3 linked regions of the Homo sapiens genome follow. The protein of the gene in region 3 interacts with the protein of the main gene of each other region in a biochemical or structural test. Each region holds a gene or a part of one and is shown on either strand. Other genes may lie near its edges.

Region 1 (7,037 bases), on a different chromosome or scaffold from region 3:
ACCATGTCGGGCAGGCTGGTCTCTAACTCCTGACCTCAAGCGATCTGCCCGCCTCGGCCTCCCAAAGTGCTGGGATTACAGGCGTGAGCCACCGTACCTGGGCGGATTACCTCAATTCTTACTCTCTTCCAACTAAGAGTTTGAGCCACATGTAATCTATTCCCCCCCCTTTTTCAAGACCAGTTCTGGGTTGTGCCTAAGGAACCCTACCCTAGTTTAGGACTGCTACCACTTGATCAGACTCCATGACTATGTGATATTTTAATTGCTTTTTATTTGGTACTGTACAAAGTTGGAGAGTTCCAGAAGGCACTGACAGCCACTTATATCTAATATGAATTATAACTATTCTGGAAAAGTTACATTCTACTTTGAGTATGATTCAACTCTCTATCCACTCCAAACTAAAATCACCTATTTACACTACAAATAGAAAAATGCCAAATTAGTCCCAAATAAATCAGTTTCTGAAACCTTTTATTCATGTTAGCTAGATCTGCTTTACTTTAGTATTTATCAGAATGAATTTGTTAGGTAAATTTAACCAATTTCCCTCACAGAGTTTATAATCTTAAAATACCTTAAAAACTGACCTGAAAAGAATGCGGAATAGCTGCCTCAGATACATGTAATCTGGGGCTTCCTCAAAGCGTAGCCCACGACAATAGTTTAAGTACATCGCAAATTCTGCAGGAAACCCCTATAGGTTCAAGGGTTAAAACAAAGTTAAAAACAAACATTTCAAGATAGAAAAATAAATGCATTTAAGTATAAGCAAAAAGATATTTTTGGGCGGGATATTTTACCATTTCATAGGAAGATATGAGAGCTAAAATGATGGCTTGGTCTCCTCATAAATTTAAATAAAATTTCATGACCCTACCTACCCTATTATGTACAATATTAGTAGAAGAAATACATATGTTCTTCCCATATAGTGCTTTTCCTATACAGTACTATGTTCTTAAATAACTTACATAGCCCACTTGTTAAAACCTGTCATTTTATCAAAGTCGCGCCTCTTCGTGAACTTTTTTTTTTTTTAAAGACAGGGTCTCAATCTGTCTCCCAGGCTGGAGTGCAGTAGTGTAATCTCAGCTTACTGCAACCTCCACCTCCCAGGCTTCAAGCGATCCTCCAACCTCAGCTTCCTGAGTAGCTGGGACTACAGACACGAGCTACCACGCCCAGCTAATTTTTTGTATTTTTTAGTAGAGACAGGGTTTTGTCAGATTGCCAAGGATGGTCTCAAATTCCCGAGCTCAAGAGATCTGCCCCCCTTGGCCTCCTTGGTCTCCCACAGTGCTGGGATTACAGGTGTGAGCCACCATGCCCAGCCTTCAGAAGTTTCTAAATGGTTGCATGATATTCTACCTAGTATATACATCATTAACTTGTTCTTTATAATTGAACATTTGGATGTATTCTAATTTTTCTCTATTATTAATAATACTGCTAAGTACATCTGTGGGCATAGAATTTTTCCATTTAGCTCCTTAGGAAAGATTCTCAACAATGTATAAACATTTTCAAGGCTCTAGGTATCAGTCACCAAAAGGATTTCCCCAATCAGCAATGTGGAAATACAAAATATTAAAAGAGCACAAACCTCTATATCTCCTCTCCTAGAGTAAATGCCAATGTGGAGAGTGGTAAAGTTAAAGGAGGCAGTCTCTTTCTACAACCTTATGATTGTAGAGTTAAAGTTACAATCTCTTTCTACAACCTTATGAGAAATTTCTCATGTCCTGGAGTTAGGAAGGATAGAATGGAAATGCTTGCAACATTTTTTATTGATTGCACCGATATAAATTGGGTGACCACTTGAAACATATACATATGTTAAAAGATGTAAAATAATACATATTATACATCTTTCTAAAACTCAACATTTATATACATTTATGGCCCGTGTTAATGGTAAACAGTATGACAATGAGACTGAAAACAATCTCACCACTTTATAATTACTATTTTAACTCTCACTGATTTCTTCCCTCAACTATTTATTTGTATACTGCTTTGTACTTAATTTCAGGTATACAATTCTTTCTTGTCTGAAAGACCATATGGCCTTCTTTTTATGGATGAGATCATGGTTATTCATCATGACACAAATACCTCTCTATTCTAAACTCAATTGCCTTTCTATGAAGTTGAAAATTTCAGAAAAAATGAGTGTGATTCAAACTGTCTTCTGTATTCCTGTATTGTTGGACAGCTGCTATTTTGGATTGCTCCAATCTGTCTGCATGTTTCCCTGTTCCTTAATGTACTAATTGTTGATAACCTTTCTTTTCCAGCACTAGTTTAGGGTAAGGAGAATATTTCTTACTTTTTCTTATAGATTAATGAGGTTCTATTGAAAATGTTTACCTGCCCTGTTTATTTACCCCTAGTTTTCAACAGATTAGAGAGCCCTAACAAACCAGAAACATAAAACACTTATTTTACTTACTTAAAACGTTTATTTAACTTATTTTTTATTATTTTACTTATTTTTGTTGTTGTTGAGACAGGGTCTCACTCTGTCACCCAAGCTGGACTGCAGTGGTGCAATCTTGGCTCACTGCAGCCTCGACCTCCTGGGCTCAAGCATCCTGCCCCAGCATCCCCAAGAAGCTGAGATTACAGGCATGCGTCACCATGCCAGGCTAATTTTTGCATTTTTTGTAGCGATGGGGTTTCACCATGTTGCCTAGACTGGTCTGGAACTCCCGGGCTCAAGCGATCCACCCTCCTTCAGCCTACCAAGTGGCTCCTCAACTGTGAGCCACTGTGCCTAGCAAAACACTTATTTAAAAAGACCCCTATGTTAAAAGTCCTTGTTAAAGATATTTAGAATAATAAAAATGTAAATTTAAAATGGTGAATAGCTACCTAATTCAATGTTACAAGTTCCAGAGCTGGCAAATAAAATGTTCCTTTTTCTTCCTGGATCATTCATTCATTCACTCATTTGAGACAGAGTCTTACTCTGTTACCTAGGCTGGAGTGCAGTGGCACAATCTCAGATCCTTGCAAGACAGCCAAGATTCACCACTGCAATTGGAGCCTCCCGGGCTCAAGTGATCCTCCTGCCTCAGGCTCCTGAGTAGCTGGGACCACAGACGTGTATCACTGCACCCAGCTAATTTTTGTATTTTTGGTAGATAAGGTATTTCACCATGTTGCCCAGGCTGGTCTTGTGGAACTTCTGGGCTCAAGTGATCCGCCCACCTCGGCCTTCTAAAGTGCTGGGATTGCAGGCTTGAGCCACTGTGCCCAGCCGGATCATTTATCTATTAAGGTAGAAATGGGGTTTCCCTATGTTGCCCAGGCTGGTCTTGAACTCCTGGGCTCATGTGACCTACTGCCTTGGCCTCCCAAAGTGCTGGGATTACAGGTGTGAGCCATTGTGCCTGGCTTCATTTATATTTTTTTAATATTCATCATGCATACTTACCTTACATAAAACTTCAACAGGCGTGGACATCTTCTTTTCACTAATCTTTTCATATTTTTGTTTCTTTGTTGCAGCCTGTGGAAAAGAATAAAATAAAAAAGATATACTCAGTGCTACTGAGAAGAACCATGGTAGTTTAACGCACTAGACATATAAACATATACCTGTGAGATTCAAGAGAAATTTTAACCCAGAATTTAAAAAATCAAAGTATAATACATCTAAAAAAAATTTTTCCCAAACTGTTAACTTCTGATGTAAGTTTCTTCTCTAAGAATTTAATTTTAGCTATAGGGAAAGGGTGAGTCTAATAGGAATATATGGATATTAGATTTAAGTAAAAATGGCTGGGGCCAAAATTGAAAAGCATTTTCTTTCTTTCTATATATTTTTTTAAGGAGATGGGGTCTCACTATGTTGCCCAGGCTGGAGTGCAGTAGCCATTCACAGGCTCAGCAGTAATTCCCTGTGGCCTCCAACTCCTGGCCTCAAGCAATCCTCCTGATTCAGCCTATCAAGTAGCTGGGACTACAGGTGTGCATCATCATACCCAGCTGAAAAGCATTTTCTTTCCTTTTTCCTTTTCTTTGTTTTTTTGTTTGTTTGTTTGTTTTTTTGAGACAAGGTCTCCCTCGGTTGCCCAGGCTGGAGTGCAGTGGCTCGATTATAGCTCGCTGTAGCCTCGAACTCCTGGGCTCAAAGCAATCCTCCCGGCTCAGCCTCCTGAGTAATTGGGGCTACAGGCATGTGACACTACACCCTGCTATTTTTTTTTTTTAAAGTAGAGGTGAGGTCTTGCCATACTGACCAGGCTGGTCTTGAACTCCTGGGCTCAAGTGATCCGCCTGGCTGGGCCTCCCAAAGTGTTGAAGATTATAGGCATGAGCCACCATGCTCAGCCTGAAAAGCATTTTCTTAACCCATGTTCAACACAAGGGCAAAGGCATCAGATTAATACAAAAAAATTTGTTCATCAATTAGTGACATTAATAAATGGAGTTAACTGTATAAGTCACAATATTTTTCTAAACTAAAAATACTCATATTAGATAAAGCTACCCACCCAAGGACTGAGCACTACAACTAGCTCACAGCCACTCAATAAATACAGGTATTCCTTCAAAGAACTGGTAAGGTACCAAAATAGCCATTAAAATTTAGGACACACCAACAGTGGTGACTCACACCTGTAATCCCAGTTCTTTGGGATGCTGAAGCAGGAGAATCACTTGAGCCCAAGAGTTTGAGACCAGTCTGGGCAACACAGTGAGGCACTGTCTCTACAAAAAATAATTTAAAAATTAGCTGGGCATGGTGGCATGTTCCTGTAGTCCCAGCTACAGGTAGGAGGCTGAGATAGGAGGACTGCTTGAGCCCAGGAGGTTCAGGCTGCAGTGAGCCAGGCATTCCGGCTTGGGCAACAGAGCAAGACCATTCCCCATGCCCCCACCCCCACCCAAAATTAGGATACGGTGATTTATCATTAACATACACTCACAAAAGTAACAGTAAACTCCTAGCTAATAGAAACAAAATGTTAGGACATGTATTGCTGGATAAACAGGTCTTGCTGTACATAAAAACATACATTTTCAACATAATGGCAACACATCAAAATGAGAAAGTCTCCACCTTTCTTAGTCCATGCCCACTTCCATCTAGATAGAGCTAGTGGCTACCAGTGGGTACCAGCTTACTGTCTCTTAGAGGACACTGTTCTTCAGCTGAACTAAGTTCTTACTAAAATGATCTGGTTTCATTTTCCCAGATAAAAGGTAAAAAGTAAATTAAGGTTAATTCTTTATATCTCAGAAAAATCTCAGACTTAGAAGGGACCTTAAATCTTATCTTCTCCAATATATATTTTTATTCTAAAAAAGAGAGAGAAAAATCTGATAATGTGAGTCTGGTTTACCTTTAGCCCTTGCCATGGCAGGCTGGTTCTATTAAAATACATCAAAACATATCCTAATGATTCCATGTCATCTCGGCGACTAGAAAAGAGAACGTAATTTTATAAACTGGAACTATTATTATGAAAAAACATATGAAAGAAAGTCAAGTACCCAGAAGAAATGTTCCCAAATGAGGAGGGAACACTATTTGGTGTCTTACGCAAGAAGCTACTTATTTAAGGTGATTTTAAAAAGTTCATGTGTTACCTACCTCTAAACAAAACTTTTTCCATGGAATCCAAAATCTGACAAACAACTGTCTTACAATTTAATTTTAAAAGAACAGAAACGATTTGGCTAAACAACCCTCTAAATGAGCTTAATGAACCAAGCAGGATGACATTTCTATGTTTTGCAGAAACTCATTAAAAAAAAACTTCAGAAGTACTGAAAAGGAGTTACAACTTAAAACTAATTGAACATCTATATGAATGTATTCATGCATACATATCTATATACACATACATACAAATATATATTTAGATATATATATATTTAAGGATAGGTAATGCCTTGGCGTACAGAAAAAGTGACATTACAGTTTAACCTAGATCATTCAGATATTCATGGATATTTCTTAAGCCTGAAATTCTTGGTATGAGGTTCTTTAACCTGGAGGCATATCATTGTTTTTTCTACTTATTACTTCTATGCTAGTTTTAAGGAGCAAAAAGTGACTGTAAAAGATGAAAGGAACTCGAAACTCTAGAACTCATGTGAAGAAATAGGAAGAGAGCAGAGACTGTTACTTTTTTTACTTTAAACTAGATCCTATTAATTTATATATTTGAGTGAAGTATAACAGGAGATGGTCCATCAACCCACTTTTGGTTTATTAGGACACTGATAACATTTTCCTTTTAAAAATAAATAATGCATTCTTCCCAAACTCAGCGTGAATTACTAAAGTATAAAAAGCCCCAAATAGCTCTAAAAATATATGTACTATCTTCAGCTGCAAAAAGAAACGTCAACATTGCACTTATGCTTCTAACTTTCTATCACGCAGTATTTTCCCCCCAAGAGACAACCTTCAACAACAACAAAAAATCCAGAAGACCTCATTTAACGGTCTTCTCTACACTGGTTAAAGCAGCAGGTAAAATGATTAATAAGCATCCTTCAAATCCTCAGCCAAGAAACATCCTTAGACATTGTAAGAAACTAAAATATTTCAAAAACCCATTGATGGCTTCTGCTATGGCTATGATAAGCACATTCCATTTTCGAACTTACCTCTGCTCAATACCAAGATGTGCATTGATGCTAGCATATCGGGCAGTGCCAGTGAGGTTTTTATCTTCTCTGTATGGTATGTGTTGCCTTGTCCTGTTGTCTCTGTACTTTTTGGCCAAACCAAAATCAATAAGGAATAACTTTAAAAGAGAAATACAGAAACATTAGGTTTCCAACCTTGTTCAATTAAACTGCGTCTTATTCATTAAATGGTATCTATTCTATGCATTCAAATATATCAAAATAAAGTATCCTAAGTATTAATAGAACAGATAATGAACAGACTTAACACCCCCCCATAAGCTTTTACTAGTCTTCATCAATAAATCAAGTTAAAAAAAAAAAGTCTAGTAGTTTATCCTTGTCGTTTGCAGATTTCACAGGCCCATTTCATTACATAC
Region 2 (3,268 bases), on a different chromosome or scaffold from region 3:
GGGCCCTCCCTGATGGGCCTCCCCGCCGTTCTGTGTGGTGGAATCTCACAGTCAACTTTGACCTGTGCACATCCACTTTTTTTTTTGAGATAGGATCTTGCTCTGTCACCCAGCTGGGAGTGCAGTGGTGCCATCACAGCTCATTTCAGCCTCGACCTCCCAGGCTCAAGCAATCTTCCTGCCCCAGCCTCCCAAGTAGCTGGGACTACAGGTGCATACCACCACACCCGGCTAATGTTTTGATTTCTGCAGAGCTAAAGTCTTACTATGTTGTCCAGGCTGGTCTCAAACTCTGGGCTCAAGAGATCCTCCTGCCTTGGGCTCCCAAACTGCTGGGATTACAGGCATGAGCCACTGCACCCGGCCAACACATTCACTTTTTTGGGACATGGCAGGGACTTAATGTTTTAGAAAACATTTAGCTACCCCTTTGACAATGCTGCTTGACACTATTTGACAGTGTGACTTACCACATCCTAATAACTTCCATGAAAATCATCACAAAGCAAATTTTAAATTTTTATTAAAAATCACAGTTTTTAAAAATGTCCAGTGACACAATGTAGCTCTTCTGAAATGAATGGAAAACACAACACACTGCTAACCAGTGGAGGGAGCTCTCTGCAGGGCTGGGAGACCTGACAATGCAGCTGTAGCCTCTGCAAGTGAAAATCCAGGCCGACTTGCAGTCATTGGACTGATGTCCAAGTGCAATCACCATACAGCAGCTACAGGCAGGGCTGGCTGATAGGGAGTATGGGAGAAGGACACGCTCAGATGAAAACATGCATGCAACGATTTTCACCACTGAACACACTGTTTTCTGTGATAGAAACTGTCGGCCCTGCTGGGGGACAAGATATTCACGGCCTCACTAGCCAGTGTGATGCCACCAGGGCAGCCTGCCCCTGATGCTCCTTTGTTACCTGCTAAAGAAGGACCATAAGGTAAAAGGCACCTTACCTTATGGAGTGAGCCCAGACCCCAGGGAAAAGCTTGGGTAGAACAATCCAAGGGGCAGCCTGGGTATGAGAATCCAGCCCAAGCTAGCTGCTCTAGAAGCCTGGAGGCCTTTCCCAGCTTCCCAAATGTAGCCCTTTTCACATGACCAATCCTTCAATTAGGTTACCTTTCTCTATTTGCCCTCCTTGGTGGCTACAGGGGAAAGGATAATTATTCCTGACCACAAGACACATTTTCACTAGAAAAGACTTCCTCGTGCTGGCCACAGTGGGAATTCTGCACACAGGTGCCTGCTCCACCAAGCAGAGAGGCTCAGGAGATTGTCCAGGGACAAGGAGACCTGGCCGGACCTCTGCAGGGAGGTGAGGCCCCTGCCCCCATCTTGTCCCATCACATTCTGGATGTTTGGCATCCCCAGGCTCCTGGGAGGGGAGAAGTGCTGATAAAAAGGCCAAAAATCACACAGAAAGAAGACAGAAAACTCCACGCACTTCCTACATAGGTGCTACCGTATTCCTACGAGCACGGGGCCTGTGTTGAAGACTCCCTCTGGAAGTTACAGAAGGAAGCCACCAAGAGTTCAGCCTCACAGCCTCTTTCTCAGATGCAGTCACCACTTTACCAAACTTGGCACATCCAACCACTCCTTTCATAATTTTACACCTGTTTGTGGCCTGGCTGACAGATATTTTGTCATTGATCTTTCTAATTTCAGGGATTCTAAATGTGTTTTGAGAATCTGCTCAGCACTCAGGGATTCTGTCTTTAAAAATATGATTAAACCACCAGATAGTGTGATTTCAGAAAGTGTGCGTGGCTACCAAAAACTTCTAAACACAAGTTATATGAGTGACTCCTGTCTTCTGTGGCTGAGCTTGGGTACTGATTGTCTTTCTCCATGCCTTGCATCCCCTGTTAGAGGAGGGCCTGCTGTCCATGGCTGTCCATGCACTTTAAAATGTCTCAGGTTTAGCTGAAGACCAGATGGGTCCAAGTTTATTTATATCTGCTGGCATAAGAATGATGGCTAAATTACCTCTTTAAGTTGTTTTTTTGTTTGTTTGTTTTGACAGAGTCTCGCTGTGATGCCCAAGCTGGAGTGCAGTGGCATGATCTTGGCTCACTGCGACCTCCGTTTCCTGGGTTCAAGCGATTCTCCTGCCTCAGCCTCCCGAGTAGCTGGGACTACAGACACATGCCACCATGCCCGGCTAATTTTTGTATTTTTAGTAGAGATGGGGTTTTACCATATTGGCCAGGCTAGTCTCAAACTCCTTACCTCAAGTGATCCACCCGCCTCGGCCTCCTAAAGTGCTGAGATGTCTCTTTAACTTTCAAGAGGTACAGCAAAACTGAAATCAATGGGTGATGACTTCTTAAAGATCAAACATGAAGATGAGGATTAGTTAAGACCAGAAAATCATTCTCCGATCTTGTATCTTCAACTCAAATTCACACTCCAAAAGGCCTGTTTGTGGTGAGGCTCAGGGTCTTTGGCTTGTTCTGAATTAATACTTTCTTTGGAAACTCTTTAGATGGCTTTGATCCCTGTGCTGCCCCCCATTGCAGACACAGAAAGCGACAGGGGATTCTGGCGGCACCCTCTCTGTGGAGGAGAGGAAGGTGTGGACCACGTTCAGAGGAAGGCAGCCTGAAGCTGTCCTCAGTGAGATGCTGGGGGATGGGCCTCTTGCCCCTGCTGTGCAGCCTCCATGCAGGGCTTTATTTACCAGTCACCAGGTCTTCAAGACAGTCTGCAGGAGAGAGGATTTCAGGGGGAAAGTAAGCCAAGCCAATTCATTCTCATGGTCCCCTTTTATCACAAACATGTAAGTCTTCCATCTCATAACAGAGACAGCAAAAGCAGTATCCAGGCCTTTTTTTTTTTTCTTTCTTTCTTTCCTTAACTGGCTACATGCTTAGAAACTGCACTGGTCAAACTTGATTTTCTTTTTAAAGCCTCAAAACATTTTTATTGTCAGGAAAGCTTTTCAGTGGCCAGGGATCAGTCTCATGGCCGTAGAAGCAGCCAAATTCCTCTGCCTTTGCCTTCCCTTCAGGAGTCACATGCTAAGGCATCCTTGGGCATTTGGAAAAGGCCGCTTGGGGTGAGAGTGCTCTAGGCCACTCTGCAATGTCCCTGGGCCCGATGAGTAACAAATGCACCCCGGGACCCAGAGAAGTGGAAAGACATGAAAGGGATTTGGAAACAGATCGTAAAAATAACCTGTATGAAAATCACACAGACAAGAAAACAAACAAATCCAGCTAGCCCCTTGGATCCTGCCATCCGTCTTTTCTCCCG
Region 3 (7,037 bases):
ACAGGGTCTCACTTTGTTGCACAGGCTGGAGTGCACTGGCGAGATCATAGCTCACTGCCACCTCGAACTCCTGGGCTCAAGGGATCCACCTGCCTCAGCCTCCCAAGTGGCTGCAAATACAGGCATGTGCTACCATGCTTAGCCATTTTATTTTATTTATATTTTATTTTTATTATTATTATTATCTTCTAAAGACAAGGTCTCACCAGCTTGCTCAGGCTGGTTTTGAACTCCTGGGCTCAGGTGATCTGCCCACCTCAGCCTCTCAAAGTGCTGGGATTCCACATCCCGCTGCAGCTCTGATTCTTGATTAGTTTCCCCGTCACACACATGCACACAAACACACACGCACATCACTACCACCGTCACCACCACCACCAGCAACAAAAACTATACTTTATCCCTGTCATGGGGGCAAGAACAACATTCTAGCTTCTTTCCAGGGCAATAGTTCATAGGTCCTGGAGCCTGTTAGACCACCTTCCTTTCTGTCCCTATCCTTACACCAACTTCAAGCAAATGGACAAATGGATCTCTACTTCTCTGCGAAGCATCTCACTGTCCCCTACCCTTCCCTGTTTGTGTCTGCCTCTCCAGAATCATACAGGGGCAATGGCAGTGGGGAGAGAATTTGGGCATGAAGTTGGAGAAATAAGGTTAAATGTCCCAAACAACCAGTCTCCATGGCACTACGATTTGAAATTTACCAAAAGAGCAAAGATGAAGAGTGTGATCTATATACATAATGGAATACTGCTCAGCCATAGAAAAGAATGAAGTCACATCTTTGAAGCCACACAGATGGAACTGGAGGCCATTACCTTAAGTGAAACAACTCAGAAACAGAGTCAAATACCACACGTTCTCACTTACAAGTGGGAGCTAAACAAAGGGTAACATCCATAGAGCATGGAATGATAGACACTAGAGCCTCAGAAGGGTGGGAGGGTGGGAGCCAGGTGAGGGCTGGAAAATTATTTATTGGGTACAATGTTCACTATTTGGGTAAGAGTTACACTAAGGCCGGGCACGGTGGCTCACGCCTGTAATCCCAGCACTTTGGGAGGCCGAGGCGGGTGGATCACGAGGTCAGGAGTTTGAGACCAGCCTAGCCAATACGGTGAAACCTTGTCCCTACTAAAAATACAAAAATCAGCTGGGCGTGGTGGCCCATGCCTGTAATCCCAACTACTCGAAGAATTGCTTGAACCCAGGAGGTGGATGTTGCAGTGAGCCGAGATCACTCCACTGTACTCCAGCCTGGGCAACACGGCGAGAGTCCATCTCAAAAAAAAAGGGGTAGTTACAGTAAAAGCCCAGACACTACCACTGTGCAGTAACATATCCATGAAACAAAGCTGCTCTTGCGCCCCCTACATCTACAAAAATAAATACATAAAGTAAAAAATAAAGAGCAGAGCAGACAGAAAGCATTTAAGCCACCGAACAGCACAATCGAATCAGAATTTTCTAAAGGACCATCTTACTTTTGTGCAGAGAATGGTCGGGTGAGGGAAAAAGGCAGACACAGGGAGACCAAAGAGCCAACATTCATTCAGTGCGTGCTTTTGACCACTGATGGGTACTAAGATGTCTGTCCAGGCGTGGCAAAGATGACAGCAAGACAAACAAACGCAAACCCCATCCCCGGGGAGCTGATGGTCTAGGAGGTCACTGCGTGTCCAGGCAAGTGGTGACAGTTGCTGGACCTGGGCTGGTGGGGTGAGGACGAGGAAAAGTGGAAAACAGCTCGGGTAGGAGGAAAAATTGATAAGACTGGTGACAAGGTGAGTGTGTTGAGCCGGAGAGGGAGGTAGCAAAATGTCCTAGAGTGGCGGACTTTAACACTTGCTGTGCAGCTCCTCAAAAATGCAGACGCCTGCATGCGTCCACAGAGCAGGGAATGAAACAGAGCTAGTGAGGCGGCCCAGGCACCAGCGCGGTGGGGCGTGTGAATCTGATTCATGGTGTGGGAGAAAGCAAGCACATTTTTTATTATTATTATTATTATTATTATTTTGAAATGGAATCTCGCTCTGTCACCCAGGCTGGAGTGCAATGGCACGATCTCGGCTCACTGCCATCTCCGCCTCCCGGGTACACACAGTTCTCCTGCCTCAGCCTCCCGAGTAGCTGGGACTACAGGTGTGAGCAAGCACATTATTAATAAAGTCACAGGAGATTCCCTGTGACATTTCAACCCATACAAAGCATTCTGACCAGGCTGGGCAACGTGATGAGACCACATCTCTACAAAAAAAATACAAAAATTAGCCAGCATGGTGGTGCATGCCTGTAGTCCCAGCTACTCGGGGGAGCTGAGGTGGGAGGATTGCTTGAGCCTGGGAGGTCGAGGCTGCAGTAAGCTGTGATCACACACTCCAGCCTGGGTGACAGAGAGAGGTCCTGTCTCAAAGAAAAAAAAAAAAAGTATTTTCATAGTTTTTAGGTGAGGTTGCCATTGTTGTAAATGGCAAATTCTCCAACTCTCATCTATGAACATGGCCCATGAGGAAATGGAATATATCGAGCATCATGGTTGTTTCAAGAAATGACTTTTTTTTTAGTTCCTCATTCATTCTTCCCCACACAAAACTTCCCCAGCTGGCCTCCAACCCATTCTACCTTCTCACTTGTTCTGGGCTGAACTGTGCCCCCCCAAAAATTTACATGTTGAAGCCCTAATCCTCAAGACCTCATAATGTGGCTGTTTTGGGAAATGGGGTCTTTAAAGGAGTGACTAGATTAACATTAGGTCTTGTGTAGTCATGCCTGACTGTGCCTAATCCATCAGGACTGCTGTCCCTGTAAGAAGAGGAGACTAGGCCACTCTTCCCCCCAAGGCAAGATGGCATCAGTACACAGGGAGAAGGGGGCATCTACAAACCAAGGAGGGCGGCCTCAGAAGAAACCAACCCTGCTGACACCTTGATCTTAGACTTTCGGCCTCAGAACTGCAAGAAAATGAATTTTTGTTGTTGAAGCCATTCAGTCTGTGGCACTTTGTTACAGCAGAAACCACACCACCGGCCGGGTGCGGTGGCTCATGCCTGTAATCCCAGCATTTTGGGAGGCCGAGGCGGGCGGATCACCTGAGGTCAGGACTTCGAGACTAGCCTGGACAACATGATGAAACCCCATCTCTACTAAAAATACAAAAAATTAGCTGGGTATGGTGGTGGGTGCCTGTAATCCCAGCTACTCAGGAGGCTGAGGCAGGAGAATCACTTGAACCCAGGAGGCAGAGATTGCAGTGAGCCGAGGTCACGGCATTGCACTCCAGCCTGGGCAATAAGAGCAAAACTCTGCCTCAAAAAAAGAAAAAAAGAAAAAGAAAAGAAAGAAACCACACCAGCAACCTGGTCCTGAAGATCTTTCTCCAGTCTGTTTCTCTCTCTCTCTCTCATATGAACTTGCACTCACACAGATCACATGCACGGGGACTCACCACAATCTCCGAATGTTACAGCCAGGATGCTGGAGCGTTTCACACAACACTCTCATCCCTGGGTCCCCCAGAGAATTGTCACTGAGGTCCAATTCAGTTAGACTCTGGCTGGTGCTCAGAACTGAAAAGAGGCCCCGGCAAAAACTGGAAGTGAGGTGGCTGTTCACCAATCTAGGAATTAGAAGGAAGACAGACAGAAAAGAAATCAGCCTCGAATAATAACTAACTGGAGCTGGGGGCCGGGGTGCCTGGCACCAGTTCAGAGAAATGCCTTCCGGGGATTAAGAAATGGGTCACGAAACCAAAAATTGTTCCCAGAGAAATGAAGAGGGCTGGATGAGCCTTGGTAAAAGCAGTTCTGCCTCCTCTCGGACGGAGAGCATGAGCCTGTGACTGTGGCGGACTGTGGCACCCTACAGCCTGCTCCCCAGTGTCCTCCTCTCGCCCTTACCAGTCCACTGTCCCAACATGGCCCTGAACGTTCTGTGCTGGGTGATCAGAGGGCAGTCCTCACTCCTGGCTACACAACAGCATCAGGAGTGCTCACAAAAATCCTCAGGCCAGGCTGGGCATGGTGGCTCACACCTGTAATCCCAGCACTTTGGGAGGCCGAGGCGGGCAGATCACCTGAGGTCAGGAGTTCAAGATCAGCCTGGCCAACATGGTGAAACCCTCTCTCTACTAAAAATACAAAAATTAATTGGGTGTGGTGGCACGAGCCTGTCATCCCAGCTATTAGGGAGGCTGAGGCAGGAGAATCACTTGAACCTGGGAGGTGGAAGTTGCAGTGAGCCAAGATCATGCCACAGCACTCCAGCCTGGGCAACAGAGCAAGACTTCATCTCAAAAAAAAAAAAAAGAAAAAGAAAATCGCAAGCCCAGGCCACATCCATGGAAATAAAATCAGAAGCTCTGAGGTGGAACTAGATGAATTTTTTAAATTTTTTTTCAGATGAAACCCAAGCTGGAATGCAGTGCCATGATCATAGCTCACTGCAGCCTCAAACTCCTGGGCTCAAGCAATCCTCTTGCCTCAGCCTCCCGAGTAGCTGAGGTTACAGGCACGAGTCACTGTGTCCAGCTATATGGATCTTTTTTATTTAAAAAAAGCCAGGTGGCTCCAACATGCAGTCACATTTTTGCTTTTGTTTTTCTGTAGAGAGGTGCTCTCACTTTGCTGCTCAGGTAGGACTTGAATTCCTGGCTTCAAGCAATCCCCCCATCTTGGCCTCCCAAAACCTAGGATTACAGGCAAGAGCCACTGCACCCACACATGCAGTCACCTTTGAATCACCTGTAGCTCTCATTCAAATGCAAAGTCTAGCTCTCTAGGTCTAAGATTGGGTCCACAATCCTGCATTTCTAATAGATGCTCAGGCTTCTGGTTCTCAGAAGGGACTGGAACATACAAAGCAAGCTCCTGCCCTCAGAGTAAGGCAGCTGCCATCTAGAAAGATGGGTGCTGAGCCCCCTACCAGGGCTCCAGTCAGAGTCTGTCCTCAGAGTAAGGCAGGTGCCATCTAGAGGGATGGGTGCTGAGCCCCCTACCAGGGCTCCCGTCAGAGTCTGTCCTCAGAGTAAGGCAGGTGCCATCTAGAGGGATGGGTGCTGAGCCCCCTACCAGGGTTCCAGTCAGAGTCTGTCCTGAGGAAGGAAGGTGCTATCTAGAGAAATGGGTGCTGAGCCTCCTACCGGGGCTTCAGTGAGAGTCTGTCCTCAGAGGAAGGAAGGTGCTATCTAGAGAAATGGGTGCTGAGCCCCCTGCCAGGGCTCCAATCAGAGTCTGTCCTCAGAGGAAGGAAGGTGCTATCTAGAGAAATGGTTGCTGAGCCTCCTACCGGGGCTTCAGTGAGAGTCTGTCCTCAGAGTAAGGCAGGTGCCATCTAGAGGGATGGGTGCTGAGCCCCCTGCCAGGGCTCCAATCAGAGTCTGTCCTCAGAGGAAGGAAGGTGCTATCTAGAGAAATGGGTGCTGAGCCTCCTACCGGGGCTTCAGTGAGAGTCTGTCCTCAGAGGAAGGAAGGTGCTATCTAGAGAAATGGGTGCTGAGCCCCCTGCCAGGGCTCCAATCAGAGTCTGTCCTCAGAGGAAGGAAGGTGCTATCTAGAGAAATGGGTGCTGAGCCTCCTACCGGGGCTTCAGTGAGAGTCTGTCCTCAGAGTAAGGCAGGTGCCATCTAGAGGGATGGGTGCTGAGCCCCCTACCAGGGCTCCAGTCAGAATCTGTCCTCAGAGGAAGGAAGGTGCTATCTAGAGAAATGGGTGCTGAGCCTCCTACCGGGGCTTCAGTGAGAGTGTGCAAACCTTCCTCACAGATGTGTGATCTTCATAAGGTCTCCCTGCCCTCTCCACCTTCCACCTCACTCTTAATGAGTAGTTCTGCCTACTTTTCTCTCTGTCTTACTCTTCTTCTCCCATTTCTATGGTCTGAATGTTTGTGTGCCCCAAAATCCATACGCTGAAATCCTAACCCTCAACATGACGTATCAGGCGATGGGGCCTTTGAGGTGTGGTTAAGTTATGAGGGTGGAGCCCTCAGGAGTGGGATTGCTGTCCTTAGGAAAGGGACCCCAGAGAGCTGCCTTGCCTCTTCACCATGTAAGGACACAGTGAGAAGGCACCATCGACCAGGGAACAGGCCCTCACCAAACACCAGATCTGCCAGAGCCTGGATCATGGACTTCCCAGCCTCCAGAACCGTAAGGTGAACCTTCCTTTTGCTTATAAGCCAACCAGCCTGCAGTGTTTTGTTATGGCAACCTGATGAATGAAGACAACTGTCTTTTTTCCAGTCACTCGGAACTGTTTGCTGCCGTAGAAACCGTACCCTGCTTTCCCACACCTGCCCTCTCTCTCAACACCGTAAGCCCCCAGCCTGGCTGCCCCTTTCCTTCTCTCACTCTCTCACTGCCCATCCTCCGGAAGCTGGCTGAGCGGGGACACCCACCCGTGCCCCGCTGGTGAACAGGTTCGTCCCCTTGTGCTTTGGATACTCTGCAAGTTTCCTTGTCAGAGCCCATGACCCCCTCCCCGACATCTGCACTTGTTTCCGGACTGTCCCACAGCCAGACCTCAAGTCCCTGTGACCAGGACCTGGGTCTTCACCACCACTGCGGCCCTGTGGGCAGTCAGTCCTTCATGGCCAAACCATGACTAGGAAGGTGGTCCTGGTCATGGTAATGTCAACGGATCAAGAAAGCTGAAACTCATTGTTGCCTGTGGAAGGGCCAAGCCTCCTGTTTCCCTTAATTTTGCCCCACGTCAAGTGTCTTCTATCCAGGCTAAACTCACACATCACAGGGTGGCCACCTTCCTACAACCACTGTGGGTGGTCCTTCTGCAGGAGGCACTGAACGATAAACCCAAAAGGGACTCAGAAGTCAGGTGACTCAACCACTTCATTGCACAGACTTGGCCACTAGCTTCCAACCACCCAGCAAGTGTGTGAACAGACCCGAAAACGGGGTTTTGGCAATGCCCAGTGCAGAGCAACATGGGGGCCTAGAAAGAGGGTCTCCACATTTCTGCTCTATTTCCCTTGATTTACCTTCATCATGTTTTTTTCCAAGGAAACTGTGTCTCTCTCCACTG

What was found. Proteins that work in one complex are often made in the same cells at the same time.
Region 1: of the proteins of NLRP3 (region 3) and CSNK1A1, one has a biochemical effect on the other in vitro, tested with the Homo sapiens proteins (one study listed by BioGRID).
Region 2: of the proteins of NLRP3 (region 3) and SYK, one has a biochemical effect on the other in vitro, tested with the Homo sapiens proteins (one study listed by IntAct).

What each region holds. Positions count from the first base shown.
Region 1 is NC_000005.10:149,506,434-149,513,470, forward strand, and holds part of CSNK1A1 (casein kinase I isoform alpha), read right to left. Parts: intron 6,777-7,037; coding exon 6,637-6,776; intron 5,440-6,636; coding exon 5,361-5,439; intron 3,521-5,360; coding exon 3,446-3,520; intron 701-3,445; coding exon 594-700; intron 1-593.
Region 2 is NC_000009.12:90,895,788-90,899,055, reverse strand, and holds the end of SYK (tyrosine-protein kinase SYK), read right to left. Parts: 3' UTR 507-3,268; downstream 1-506. UniProt on the Homo sapiens protein: Non-receptor tyrosine kinase which mediates signal transduction downstream of a variety of transmembrane receptors including classical immunoreceptors like the B-cell receptor (BCR).
Region 3 is NC_000001.11:247,426,167-247,433,203, reverse strand, and holds part of NLRP3 (NACHT, LRR and PYD domains-containing protein 3), read right to left. Parts: intron 3,620-7,037; coding exon 3,449-3,619; intron 1-3,448. UniProt on the Homo sapiens protein: Sensor component of the NLRP3 inflammasome, which mediates inflammasome activation in response to defects in membrane integrity, leading to secretion of inflammatory cytokines IL1B and IL18 and pyroptosis.